Linked DNA regions of Homo sapiens: region 1 is linked to region 2. The links come from fine-mapping of genetic effects on gene expression. A gene starts in region 2. The other region holds a variant in brackets. All regions are shown on one strand. Distances are between the middles of the regions. Region 1 overlaps ROBO1 (roundabout guidance receptor 1). Region 2 holds the start of ROBO1 (roundabout guidance receptor 1).

Evidence for each region. PIP is the estimated chance that this variant, and not a neighbour inherited with it, causes the effect.
Region 1: its variant is the best candidate, but not a certain one, in a credible set for the expression of ROBO1 in thyroid (GTEx, PIP 0.63).

The regions. Positions count from the first base shown.
Region 1 is chr3:78,777,094-78,781,491 of GRCh38, forward strand. All of the region lies in intron 4 of ROBO1 (roundabout guidance receptor 1), which reads right to left. Among named protein-coding and RNA genes, the nearest start is that of MIR3923, 730 kb to the right of the region's middle. The variant C/T (reference allele first, on the strand shown) is at 2,253.
Region 2 is chr3:79,765,364-79,769,761 of GRCh38, forward strand. ROBO1 (roundabout guidance receptor 1) reads right to left here and starts at 2,635. Exons shown (of 31, transcript NM_002941.4): 1 at 2,389-2,635.

The sequences.
Region 1 (4,398 bases), 990 kb before region 2:
AGATTGACTATCCTTAAGTGGATGGAAAGTTTATGCCAAACTGAATAGCAAACTTCTGAAATATGCTAACTTAATTAGAATACAGATAAATTACAGGAACAGACATCTTTGGTTACTAATTAAAACAGTACCAATAATATCTGAATGTAAATAAGCTAACTTATTTGATTCCACTCACAAACATTAACTTCTGATGACCAGAGGAAGGTTCAAAGACAGTATACAGCTAGTGATGTCAATTTAAAGACGATTTTGAAACAAGAGACAAAAGACATGCTGAGACAGAAGTATGGGCTCATGAAGATGTACTTTGTCTGTTTCACAATTTCCTTATGATATATATACAACCAATGCCATCTGGTACCCCATCATTTTTCTTATCACTATTGCTATTGAAACTGATAGATATAATGTAAACCAGCATTCTTCATATTTGTTTGTAGTTGAAAGTCATGGGAAATGGTTGTAAACAAATCAAAATCACACCCACTGTTTGAGCACATACCTTATCCTTTTAAGTGAGTATTTTTATGTAACAGCATTTAATTTAAAGGAGGAGCCAAAACAAAAAGTTTGGCTTACTTTGTATTATAAATTTTTTCACATTGATTTTGTATCCTGAGACTTTGCTGAAGTTGCTTATTGGGTTAAGGAAATATATAAATATACAATCATGCCATCTGCAAACAGAGACGATTTGACTTCCTCTCTTACTATTTGAATACCCTTTATTTCTTTCTCTTGCCTGATTGCCCTAGCCAGAACTTCCAATTCTATATTGAATAGGAGTGGTGAGAGAGGGCATCCTTGCCTTGTGCCGGTTTTCAAAGGTAATGCTTCCAGCTTTTGTCCATTCACTATGATATTGGCTGTGAGTTTGTCATAAATAGCTCTTATTATTTTGAGATATGTTCCATCAATACCTATTTTATTGAGAGTTTTTAGCATGAAGGGTGTTGAATTTTATCGAAGGCCTTTTCTGCATCTATTGAGATAATCATTTGGTTTTTGTAATTGGTTCCGTTTATGTGATGGATTATATTTATTGATTTGTGTATGTTGAACCGGCCTTGCATCCCAGGGATGAAGCTGACTTGATCGTGGTGGATAAGCTTTTTGATGTGATGCTGGATTGGGTTTGCCAGTATTTTATAGAGGATTTTCGCATCGATGTTCCTCAAGGACGTTGGCCTGAAATTTTCTTTTTTTGTTGTGTCTGTGCCAGGGTTTGGTATCAGGATGATGCTAGCCTCATAAAATGAGTTAGGGAGGAGTCCCTCTTTTTCTATTGTTTGGAATAGTTTCAGTGGGAATGGTACCAGCTCCTCTTTGTACCTCTGGTAGAATTCAACAAAAATCACAAGCATTCCTATACACCAGTAATAGACAAACAGAGAGCCAAATCATGAGTGATCTCTCATTCACAATTGCTACAAAGAGAATAAGATACCTAAGAATACAACTTACAAGGGACATGAAGGACCTCTTCAAGGAGAACTACAAACTACTGCTCAAGGAAATAAAAGAGGACACAAATGGAAAAACATTCCATGCTCATGGATGGGAAGAATCAGTATTGTGAACATGACCATAATGCCTAAAGTAATTTATAGATTCAACGGTATTCCCATCAAGCTACCACTGACTTCCTTCACAGAATTAGAAAAAACTAAATTTCATATAGAATCAAAAAAGAGCCCACATAGCCAAGACAATCCTAAGCAAAAAGAACAAAGCTGGAGGCATCATGCTATCTAACTTCAAAATATAGTACAAGGCTACAGTAACCAAAACAGCATGGTACTAGTACCAAAACAAATACCTAGACCACAGAACAGAGGCCTCAGAAATAACGCCACGCATCTACGACCATCTGATCTTTGACAAACCTGACAAAAACAAGCAATGGGGAAAGGATTCCCTATTTAATAAATGGTGCTGGGAAAACGGGCAAGCCATATGCAGAAAACTGAAACTGGACCCCTTCCTTACACCTTATACAAAAATTCATTAAAGATGGATTAAAGACTTAAATGTAAAACCTAAAACCATAAAAACCCTAGAAGAAAATGCAGGCAATACCATTCAGGACATAGGCATGAGCAAAGACTTCATGACTAAAACAACAAAAGCAATGGCAACAAAAGCCAAAATTGACAAATAGGATCTAATTAAATGAAAGAGCTTCTGCACAGCAAAAGAAACTATCATCAGAATGAACAGGCAACCTACAGAATGGGAGAAAATTTTTG[C/T]AATCTACCCATCTGACAAAGGGCTAATATCCAGAATCTACAAAGAACTTACACAAACTTACAAGAAAAAAGCAAACAACCCCATCAAAAAGTGGGCAAAGGATATAAACAGACACTTCTCAAAAGAAGGCATTTATGCAGCCAACAAACATATGAAAAAAAGCTCACCATCACTGGCCATTAGAGAAATGCAAATCAAAACCATAATGAGATGCCATCTCACGTCAGTTAGAATGTTGTTCATTCAAAAGTCAGGAAACAACAGATGCTGAAGAGGATGTGAAGAAATGGGAACGCTTTTACACTGTTGGTGGGAGTGTCAATTAGTTCAACCATTGTGGAAGACTGTGGCGATTCCTCAAGGATCTAGAACCAGAAATACCATTTGACCTAGCAATCCCATTACTGGGTATATACACAAAGGATTATAAATCATTCTACTATAAAGACATATGCACACATATGTTTATTGCAACACTGTTCACAATAGCAAAGACTTGGAACCAACCCAGATGCCCATCAATGATATACTGGATAAAGAAAATATGGCACATATACACCATGGAATACTATGCAGCCGTAAAAAAGAATGAGTTCATGTCCTTTGCAAGGACATGGATGAAGCTGGAAACCATCATTCTCAGCAAACTAACACAGGAACGGAAAACTGAACACCACGTGATCTCACTCACAAGGGGGAGTTTTACAATGAGAACACATGGACACAGGGAGAGGAACATCACACACCAGGGCCTGTTAGTGGGTTGGGGGCTTAGAAGAGGGATAGCATTAGGAGAAATACCTAATGTAGATGACAGGTTGATGGGTACAGCACACCACCATAGCACGTGTATACCTGTATAACAAAGCTACATGTTCTGGACATGCATCCCAGAATTTAAAGTATAAAAAAAAATTCACATATGTTAGTCTTATTAACTGAGACTGCATGCCACAGCTACGTGTTAAAGCAGCATATTACAATAAGACGCAATTTCCAAAATTCAAAATACCTTAGCCAATAAAGAAAATACTAACAATAAGTAATCTGGGCTCAGTTAGAGCAAGGTACAAGTTTGATTTTGCATGGCGCCATTTTTGTATTTCTAGATTTTTTTTTTCATTCCATATACATGCATGCCCTTATCTCTCCTGTCATGTCCCCAAACTTTCCCTGATGGTACTTTCTTATTGTACGCCTTCCTCTACTGCCAAAATAATTTTAACGTTGAGACAGATTGCCTCAATTTGTTTGCTCACCCTGTGGAAACTCTTTTCACATCAGCTTTTACAAATCTCCTAATTTGTCTGATCAGGAAGCCTATTTTCAGGCTTTGTATGAGTTGATTGTTGTGCAGAATTCATTACTATTGACCTGCTTCTTCTTGGCAACTCTAGTCTCTTTTGGTGCCTACCACATTCATTTCTGCTGCTTCTCCTCCCTTATCTCCAGCTGTTCCTTCTCTGTCTTCTTGACTGGATTTTTCTCCGTGTTTTCTTTTTTATTATGATTTTTTAGGTTCTCTAACTCACCCCTGCTTCTTTTTATGTGGAATATTGTTCCTGACTTAATGATACTATTCAACCCCATGATGTTAGGCACTGTCTTTATGTGGGAGTCTCCATAATCTATAATCACAGCTCAGATTTATTTCTACCAAAACCTAAACAAATAGTTCTCACTTCCTTGGTACATAAACACTTGGATACCTCATATAGTTGAACCCTAAATACAAACGGATTTCAGCAATATCACTACTCTAAAACAACAATGACAACAAAACAGCACAGTAACCACTTTTTGCCCTTATCCATTTCCTCTATTAGTATATATAAGTAAGCCAGAACACCCTAGAGTCAATCTGTAATTCTCCTGCTCTATCAGTCCCATATCCAAATAGTCAGATTTATCACACAATTTTCTCTCAAATTAGTCACCTTCTCTCCGACTCCAATTTCACATGTTAAATTAGATGCTAGCCAACTTCTTCATCTAGATTAACTCTAACATTTAATTCTATCTAGGTAGCCTCAAAGCACAAACTCTAACCCCAAGTGGGTATATAAAAGCTTCAGAAAAGTGAAGCAGTGGGTGTAGTTTGACAGTTTCCCATGTGATTCTAACATAACATACCACTCCTCTCCT
Region 2 (4,398 bases):
TGCTGCTGCTTCCTCTTCCTTTTTTTGGGGGGTGGGGGCCGATTTTGGAAGGGCAAATATTGATGGAACATCTACCAACACTGCCTCTTCCCTTTAACAAAATCAACATGATGCATGCTTACAGATTGCCTTTGAAAGTTACCAGTGCCTCCTCAAGATATAGTAGAGAAGCAGGTTTTAAGGTGTCAGACTGAGGCTTTCAAAATAATAGCTGCTAGGAGAATACAAGTTTGGGCCTGAAAACCCAGTTATGAGGCTTCCAAATAAATCAGTGGATTTTCAACTTTTTTTTGTAATTATTATATCCTAGTTCCCAAACAACCACAGTAAAGGAGGCACATGGAAAGCGAGGAAAAAATGAAATGGCATTGTCTTCCCCCAGGTGCTCAATCAGTATATTTCCTTTGATGTGTAGCCTTCAAGTAACTGACAACCCCAAGTGGCCCATTCTATAGGGTCCTGCATCTACGCTCCTTCCTCTGTGCGCTCAGCCCGGGTTGACAAGCAACCTCCAAATTAAACAACCTCCCACCACTACTTGGAAACAGACAACCATCTCTTAACAGGCCTCTGTAACACACAGCTTGATGAAAATCACTTACACAGGGCAGATGACACAGAGGAGTTTACAAGGTCGGGGCACTCCTTGGCGGGGCGTGAAAGGGTGGGAGGTGCTGAGGTCAGGGTTAAACTACCCTGTGAAATGAGCCTCCTGCCCTGCCCTTTCCTCCCTTCATCTATAGAAGGAGCCTCCAGTGAGTTCCTGCGTCTGGAAATCTGCCCCCTTTAGTGCCGCAGACAGGCCAGGGACAGCATTTCAAAGCTCCTCTAAATCAATCCACTTAAAAGAGCCCAGAAAAGCCTGACCATTGACCATAATTGCCCTAAATTGCTTGTTTTCCTTCCCCTCTTGCAGCCTCATCAACATTTCCCTTCTTTCCCCCTTCGTGTCCTTTTTTCTTGGGGGCGCAGGTCCTCTAGATGCTTGGGGTGCACACTAAGGATATTTGAGTAGTGGGAGCTCCGACTCGAGGCAGGAGTGGGATGTCTTAGCATTCCGTCTCCCCCACCCCACCCATCTGCGTGGGACACAGTGACTCCTAGAAGGGTATCCCAGGATTTTAGCGGCCAGGTGTGAGCGCCCTCCACGCGGTCCTCCGAGACCTCAGGGCGCGTGGCAACTGGGCAGAAGCCGTCTCTGCAGCGCCGCTGCCCCGGGTGGAGCGGCAGCCCAGGCTGCAGCAGTGGGGTTGCCACGCCGAGTTTTCCGCATCGGCCGCCCGCAGGGCTCGCCTGCTTCTCCCCATTGTGTTCTCAGAGCTGTGGGACCCAGCCGCGCGCGCAGCCGCACCCGCGCCAACGCTGGAACCGAAGGCTCATGGAAGCGGGGCTGGCAAGATGGGGCAGGGAGAAGGAGCAAGAAGGGGCCCCAGAAGGGCACGGCGTTTCATCAATAATGCAGAGGCTCCTGGACCTCCCTGCAATACGTTTTCCAGCTAAACGCCACCAACTGGAGCGCTTCCTGGTTCGTCCCACTCGTGTGGTTTTTGTGTGTGAAAGATGGGACGCACCTTTTTCATTCATCTGTCTTCTCTCATTCTTCCTCCTTCCCTCCCTCATTTCCTCCCTCAAAGTCCCCGCTGGCTTAGCTTTAAGCTCTCGTCTTCACATCAGCACCATGTTTTCAAGCAAAATCCTGCAGGTTGGAAATGCAAGTGTCAAAAGTCCCCACTGCCTACATACCGCCAAGAGTTTACCAAAATCCACCTAGTAACGCTTATTTTCAAAGCCCCCACGCGCATCCATTCCTGGAGAATGCTTTCAAAGTTTGGAAGCTCCCTGCAGCCTGCCCGTGTCTATGCCTCAGTCAGCTCACATCACGAACAACGGTGCGGTCAGCGGCACTGAGATTAGGCTGCAAAGTTGCCCGGCCCCAGCCCACTACACCGCTGATGCTCGCCGCATCCCTAGAGCAAATTCCGCTGTGTGCCCCCAAGAAGCCAAAAGCGGCACGAAACCTACTCCAACAAGGGTTAGCCCAGCCACACACACAACAAACAAATTCCAAAACTTCTTTGTTAAGCAGCCGCAGCCTACCTGGAACGGACACTCTGCACAACTGGCAAGGAAGAAACAAACATCGCATCCCTGCAGGAAAACTTGTTGAATCCCTCCCGATCGCAAGGCTGCAATTTCCGATTTAGCCTGAAGGTTTTTGATTCTACCCCAAAACACCCTGGCGCATCAGCCACAATTTCTGGATAAACTGCAGAGTCCTCTCGGCAACCATTCTGCACTCCAACAACCACTAGTGTAAAACCCAGCGTGTCCCCTTTTACAAATCAAAAGCCAGCTGTCACTTCCCTTGCAACCATTTCCGAGACTTACCCTTCCATAAGACTGTTTTCAGCAATCTAGAGGCTCCGTAGTGCAGACGCAGCCCTGCAACTTTGCTGTGCACTGAGACCTTTCCGAGTTTAAACCAAGCGAAAGGTGACAGACTTTTAAACCTAAGAGTGGGGAAATAGGGAGAGAGTGAAGTCGGGTTTCTTCTCTGTATCAGCACCCTGGAAAAATTCAATCCTTCTTCAGTAGAGAATTCTTTCAAACCCGTTATCTGTATTACTATTAATGCGCAGAGCAGAAGGCATTGCATACAAATAGGTCCAAGTGTGCGCTTCTATTGGTGGCTGCGGAGGCCCCTGGGTCCTACTGCTCCGGTCTAAACTACACAGCAACACTAGGCACGCAGCTTTGGAGACGCCGAGGGGAAAATGGATTTAATTGATTCGTTACCTCTGGTATTGTAATGCCTGCTGCGATGTTTAACCGAGGGGGGAGGAAAAAAAAAAAAAAAAACCCTTACATTTAACTCCTGTCATGTGATCTATCATTCCATAGCTGCTTTTAATTGTCTGTGTGGAGTGGCTTTGATCATACAAAGGATTTTAAAAGAACATTTTCGAAGGAAAATTCACACAGACACTTTTGGCAGGAAAACCCTCTTTTGCTCTCTATTATGCATTATTCTCATATAAATCCAGGAAATTTTATATAATCAAATACTTCTGCACTTCACGTAGGTACACACAACACCCAATTGTATTTACAATTCATAGCTACTACAAATAAAATACCTTACATGGGTAGTAGATAGTAGAAGCTAAAATATGAGTCTACCAATTATAAAACACGGGTTATATTAGTCAAATGCTACAGAAAAAATTCCATCAATGACAATGGCGTCAGCATCATTTTTACTTCGCAAAATTAGAAATTCAAAAATATTTTCCTTGTAAATATTGACATAAAGATATAAATCAACATAAAGGTATTATAATGTCACAGTATGTCAAGCATTTACTATTAATTGCTACATTATCTTTTTACAGTTTCTCTCTTAGCAAGTTCATTAGTAATGCAAATTGGCATAACAAGGAGATTTAAAGTGAGGCCGACCTGTGGTGACTAGCAATTTGAAATATTGTAATAGTGTGCAAAATCACTTTAGTTCATCATCGGTAAAGCCAGTTATTTTAAGAATTAGAATATTAAATGCTGAATCTTAATATATATTAATTTGAAGTCTTAAACATGCTGTTTTCTTTGACCTTTAATTTTGTGGAGGAAAAGAGAAATCCTTATTTAAACTAAAATGACATAGACTTTCCACAAAATCCTAGATACGATATTTACTGATATTATAATTTAGGAAGTAACATAATTTTATTGTCTTTGATGTAAATAATTGTGATAAATTCCAATTTAATTACAAAATTATTACATATATGTAATGTACAACTGAATGAACATTGTTGGAAAGGGCCACTCTGGATAAGGTTAACATCAACCAACCTATAAATTCACTACCTATGTGTAAACTAAATAAATGAAAACACAATGCAAAAATACAACAGACTCGAGATCTTATTCCAAATACATGTAAAGCATTTGAATTTATGTAGTGTGTGCTACAATCCCTCTTCATTTCCGTAACTCTTTCCCTTTACAGCCCCTTCCCTTCCCCCAATCAGTAACCCTTGACAACAGAAGTGTTAACTTCAAGTCCAGGTTGCCTTTGCTGCCTTCCAGACCTAACTTACAGATTGCATCCTTGTAGGAAACAGAGTTAACTCTTACACGACTGAGAGGTGAAAGAAGAGAGTTTCTTTCAGGGATTAGAAAATCCAGTATTTTTATGTGTATTTGCAAAGTTTGCACCAAACACATATTTTTAAAAATATCCATGATCACTAATTCAGAGTGAAAAGATGTGATCATTGGCATTGTATCAGAGTCAATTTGCTGTATATATCCATTGCTATTGTGTCACTGAAATAGCTTTTGAATAACTTTTATTCAGGGTTACTTCAATCACTTTACTTCAGGTTAATAATT